Regions from separate parts of the Homo sapiens genome. Here region 2 is linked to region 1. A link means that fine-mapping ties the variant in region 1 to the expression of a gene that starts in the linked region. Tissue or cell type: lymphoblastoid cells. Region 1 holds a variant in brackets; the other region holds the start of a gene. All regions are shown on one strand. Distances are between the middles of the regions.

What was found. PIP is the estimated chance that this variant, and not a neighbour inherited with it, causes the effect.
Region 2: KIF2A starts here. The variant in region 1 is fine-mapped to the expression of KIF2A in lymphoblastoid cells (GTEx, PIP 0.98).

The regions. Positions count from the first base shown.
Region 1 is chr5:62,284,416-62,287,326 of GRCh38, forward strand. No RefSeq gene overlaps it. Among named protein-coding and RNA genes, the nearest start is that of KIF2A, 20 kb to the right of the region's middle. RefSeq lists enhancers at 842-941, 1,052-1,331. The variant G/A (reference allele first, on the strand shown) is at 1,189.
Region 2 is chr5:62,304,771-62,307,681 of GRCh38, forward strand. It overlaps KIF2A (kinesin family member 2A), which reads left to right and starts at 1,436. Exons shown (of 21, transcript NM_001098511.3): 1 at 1,436-1,766. The coding sequence starts at 1,703. RefSeq lists a silencer at 1,140-2,169.

The DNA.
Region 1 (2,911 bases):
ATTCATACACTTATGTAGTCTCTTCCTACACTGAATGGGTCTGCCCTATGTAACTATCAGGATATTAAGGAAAAACAGAGTATGACTTCAATGTCTAAGTCATAGAAGATGCTATAGTTTCCACCTTGCTCCTTTGGGTCATTCACTCTAGGGAAAGCCAGATGCCATGTCACGAGAGTCCTCAAGCAACCATATGGAAGTGTCACATGGCATGGAACTGAGGTCTCTTGGAAACAACCTTCATTAACTTACCAGAATTGTGAGTGAGTATAGTTGGAAATGGATCCTCCAGCCTAGTTAATCCTTTAGATGACTGCAGCTCCAGCTGACATCTGAACTGCAACTTCATTTGAGACACCCCCTTCAAGACAGAACCATCCAGCTAAGCTGTTCCTAAATTCATTTTGCACAAAAACTGTGTAATATAACAAATGTTTATTGTTGTTTAAAGCTGCTAAGTTTGGGCATAATTTATTACACAAGAACAGGTAATTAATATCATAGCCCTTTGGAACTAATTTTTCCAAGAATGGGCAAATAACCTGTTAGGGCAATGAGTAATTTCCCCCAAATTTTTTGATGGGCTATCACAGAGAACATAAAGATAGTTTCTTTGATAGCTACACATATAAGATGTCAAACTTCGATGCTTCCTGTGACCATGTTTCCACCAGGTGGAGAAAGCCAGTCTAAAGTGAAAGAGAATGAAGTTGACACAGAGAGAAACAGAATGGCAGAGAGAAAGCCATTAGGGTGTTGGGGTCCTTCATTCTAACTATTCCTGAGACTCTGCTGGATCTTGCTTTTTCTTTGGGTATTTGACCCTTCTTCAGAGTCCTCCATCCAGATGCCATTGCCTCAAGGCCTTTGTATGTCCTGGTCATCTCTCCTTTTTTTCTCTTGGCCCAATCCTTCACTTTAGTTGGTGTGCAAATGTCATCTCACTGGCTGCACACAGTGGTTCACACCTGTAATCCCAGCACTTTCAGAGGCTGAGGCAGGAAGATCACTTAAGCCCTAGAAGTCTAGGCAGTAATGAGCTGTGACCATGCCACTGAACTCCAGCCTACGTGACAGAGACTCTGTCTCAAAAAAGAAAAAAAAAAAGTCATATCACCAATGAGATCTGACCACCCTGCCTAAAATAGATTATCCAGTGTGTGGTAGTTTTGTAATGTGTCAACCTGC[G/A]TAGGTGGAACATTTCCTAGAATTCATTTTCTGGTATGCTTCTAGTTAGAGTGGGTCACAAGGAAGATTCTTGAGAAATTTGGAGGGTGGTAGGGAAACGGTGGCCATTTTGTAGCTCACACCTACATTATTGCTGATCTGCTGACTCACTTCATTGGTGTGAAGCAGTAGCAGGGCTTGTGCCTGCAGTTGCTCTAACTTCCCCTGGATTTTCCCTCAGCTCCTCCCACCCCCGCCAGGTCGCTGGGCTGAGGAGCCCTCACTTTTACAGGATATCCTCATCACAAAGGCCAGAGGCAATAAGAATAAACATGGGTTTCCATCTGTCCTTGTCCACTTGTCCTTTCACATATATGAAATTCTAATAAGATTTTGAAAGATAAATAGGTTTTCATCAGATGGAAGAGAATTGGGTGAGAAAAATGCATCAAGCTAAGAAACAAGCAGATTAAAAGACAAAGAAGTGTGAAATGATTCATGAGGAAACATGTTTTTCCTAGAACACAAATTGCAGAGGTAGTGGTAAGATGAAAAATTAAAGAGGTAATATAAACCAAATGCTGAAATGTGTTATATACCCTAAAAAGGAGTTTCAACTTAATCTTATGAGTAAACATTTACAAAAATTTTTTGTGCATAATAATTCCTTTCTAGAAATAAAAGTTAAAAATGCATCTCCAGAGACTCTGATTCATTAAATCTGTGATATGGCCTAGAAAACTGTATTTTTAATATGTCATCCAAATGATTCTGGTCAAAGGCAATCTAAGATCACACTTTGATAAACATCATAGAACAATGGGGAGCCCCTGGAGAGTTTTAAGCAGGAGTGTCACCTGATAAGATCTGAATTTCCAAAAGATAACTTTAGATGCAGTTTAACAAAATGGATTTCAGGAAGGTAAATCTGGATATAGAGAGATATATTAGGAGATTTTTTTTTGGTGTAATAATCCAAATGAGAAGTAATGGCAGCCTTAATTAAGGCAGTAGAAATAGCAAGAAGATTATGGAGAGAAGTAATATTTAGGAAGGGTGAAGGGAGGAGGAGAATCCAAGATGAATCCCCAAATTTTTATTTGAGTAATTAGATAAATTATAAAATAGAAAATGTAGACAGAAACACAGATTCTGAGGTTGGAATGTATTTTTTAAGTGATGAGTTCAGTATGATGGATTTTAAGTTCAATATGCCTGTATGCTATTTCAGGCAAGATGCATAGTAGACACACATACGTTACATATGGATTGTTACTCAGGAACATTTTTTCTCTACATTTGATATTTTCATGCTGTGAGACCTCTGTTAGAGCAACACTTCAGTTCTCCTTTTTCCTCCTCATTCACTACTTTCCACAGAGGACAGAGGCAACTGGTAGGTGAATTTGGAGGAAATGATCGAGGCATGTGTGGCTTGACCCATTTTTTCTCCTTCCTTTGAGATCTGCCTACTTGTAGATTCAGTTGTGAGTATGGGCACGTATGTGCAGAAAATAAAATATTGAAAGAGCCTGGAGGACAGGAGACAAACCAGAAGGTATAAGGCTGTGCAGGCAGCTGCCATCTAACAGAAGTGATATCCTTTCAGAGAGGGTGTCAGGAATGGAGGCTGGACAAGGTCCTTAGCAGAGGGAAGTAGGTGTGGGGGCAGGGTGACTCTGAGAAGTATCCAGAGGAAACCTAACTCACCATCTTGGCCAAATTCAACCACAGAGGACAGGAC
Region 2 (2,911 bases), 20 kb after region 1:
ACTTACATTAGATAGAAAACTCTAGGCACACATATATCCACATAAGCATTGATGTATATATCCAGTTTCCAATTTTAAAATTTTAAATTGTATATTTGTAGTTATTGTTACAGGGAGATTATCAATGACTAGGGAAGGCCGGGCGCAGTGGCTCATGCCTGTAATCTCAGCACTCTGGGTGGTGGAGGCGGGTGGATTACCTGAGGTCAGGAGTTTGAGACCAGCCTGGCCAACATGGTGAAACCCCGTCTCTACTAAAAATACAAAAATTAGCCAGGCGTGGTGGCGCGGGCCTGTAATCCCACCTACTCGGAAGGCTGAGGCGTGAGAATCGCTTGAACACAGGAGGCAGAGATTGCAGTGAGCGGAGATCGCGCCACTGCACTCCAGCCTGAGCGACAGAGCAAGACTCCCCCTCAAAAACAAACAAAACAAAACAACAACAACAAAAAACAATGACTAGGGAAAGTAGGCCATGAAAAGTGTTGTTTCCAACCTATCAATTGCCAGTACTACAAGCAGGAGTTAGACGTTTGGAGGTTTTCACACGGTGCTATAAATACAGTTTCCAGGGCCCCGGTACACGTGGCCTTCCTGCTCTGCCAGGATGGAGAGTCTTGCTTTCCACATTGCTGATGTGGTCAGACTAATTAAATTATTGCAAAAAGACACATTCCCTAGTCAACCTTATGTGTCTGCCTTCTTCCCTTGAGTCACAGTTGTTGGCTTTACAGGCCAAGGCAAGTAAGTCTTGAACCCTCAGCAGAAACAGGGCACCAGCATCGGATGCCTCATAACCTGAACAGTTAAGGACGCCCCACCACAGAGCTTCTTTCTGAGTGTGATAAACTATAAGGCAAGACTGTAAAGGGGTGGATCTTCATTTCGATTTAGGGTAGGTGACACCTCAAGGGTGTTTCTTCCCTTCCAGCGTAACTGGATGGGAAACCTACACCAAGTGTGCTTGGGAGGGCTGCTTGGGTCAGCTACCTGTAAGTGGAAATAGGGGGTGCCACCTTCCGATGAAAACCCGGATCCCGTACTGTCAACGGAGGGCCCTTGAATTCACATCCCTCAGCCCGCTAGAAAGCCCCTGAAACCACGTGGCCTTTAACCCATTCCGGCAACAGCGCCAATTCCCGGAAGCGAGAGGGCAAGAAAGCTCGGCGCGACGCTTCCCGCGTCTTCTAGGCCGCGCGCTGAAATCAAACGCGACGCCGGCTAGCTGTGGGCCGGGCCGAGCGCTCAACGCTCCAGCGGCTGGGTAAGCCGCGGCCGCCGCCCACCCCGCTGCAGAGCTGGGCGGGGCCGCCTGGAGGCAGCGGGGAGAGGCCAGCCGAAAAGGAAGAAGAGACGCCGGAGGCGCGCTCTGCGCAGGCGCGCGGCGCCCCGCCTCCCCAGCGTCGGCTCCCCGGCGGGCGGTGCGGGCCCTCCCACTCTACCCCGCGCCGTCTCACGGCCCCGGCCCTAGCTTCACCCCGACTACCCGGCGTGCGCGTCCTCCTGCCGGCCTGCAGGCCCGGGGCCTCCGCCTGCTTCCCCACAGCTGCTCCTTGCGGCCCCGCTTGCGTTCACGCTGTCGCCCGGGCCGGCGCGGCCGCGGGCAACCGCTCCCCCTCCCACACCTACCCCGCCCCCTCCCCGCCTTTTCCGCCCTCCGGTCCCCCTCCCTCGGCCCGCTGCTGCTGCTCCAGATGAGGTGATGGCAACGGCCAACTTCGGCAAGATCCAGATCGGGATTTACGTGGAGATCAAGCGCAGCGATGGTGAGCCGCGCTGCCAGCCCCGCTGGCCCGCTCGGCCCCGTGTTCGGGTGTGCACGGAGGGGACGCGGGCGCCGGCCGCCTCATTGATTGCTTCGCCGGGCTGTGGGGGTGGGAAGGCGGCGGCCGCGGCGCTTTTGTGTGTGGCGTGTGTGCCAGTGAGGCCGGCTTGGGGTCCGCCCGGGCGCTGCTGCAGTTCTCCGGATCGGGCCGCGGGGGAGGGAAGCCGGGTGGGGAAAGGGCCCGGGTGTCGAGGGTCGCGTCTCCGGGGGTCTCTGGGCGAGGGCCGCTCGCTCCTCCTCCCGCAATCTCCAGCCCCCCCCCGGGGACACCAGCCCGGGAGGGAGCGGGCTTCGTTAGGGATGACCCTGCCTCGCGCTTCCCCTTGGTCTTTGCATTTTACCGGCTTGGCCTCTGACGGGGATGGGGATGGGGGTGGGGGAGCGGGAAGACCAGCGATTTCACATTTAGAGAACCGACTGCTGGTCGGAGGCCGAGATGGGGGGAAAGAGCCAGTTCCGTCGCCTTAAACTGCCGTCTGGTTGTCAGGCCTCCCCGGTTTCGTCGTCGACCATGCTGCTTTCTTTTTTGCCACTTCTTGGGAGAAAAATGTGGAGAATATCGCGCTGAGCCATGAATAAGGGTGGGGGAGCAATGGGAAGAAATATTCGATGGGCTTCTCCAAGGTGATGAGACTGTAAAGGGAATGATAGGGGATGGGCAGAGTCAATGCGAGGCACTGCTGAGAGAGTGGGGGTGGGCGACCGGATGTTGATATTTTCACACCCTCGGGAGAGGTAACTGAGAAAAGTGTAAGGCGAGGTGAAGACACATGCTTCATTTTTTTTTTTAAGAGCCTTAGGCTTATGTATCTTTCTCTAGGTTTCTCTTGGGGAAAATGGTTTATGACACTAGCTTGGGGTGTGGAGTGAGATACGCCAGCCAGACTGGAAATAATTCATATTGTAAAGGAATAAATGCACGGAGGGAGATAAGTAAAATTATTTTCTTTCGGTACCAATATTGAAAGAACGAGAGATGTGTGATAATCTCGAGTTGAGCAGTGTTCCTGACTCCATCTCTCATACCGATTCCTTTTTTTTTTTTTTTGAGACGGATTTTCACCCAGGCTGGAGTGCAGTGGTGCG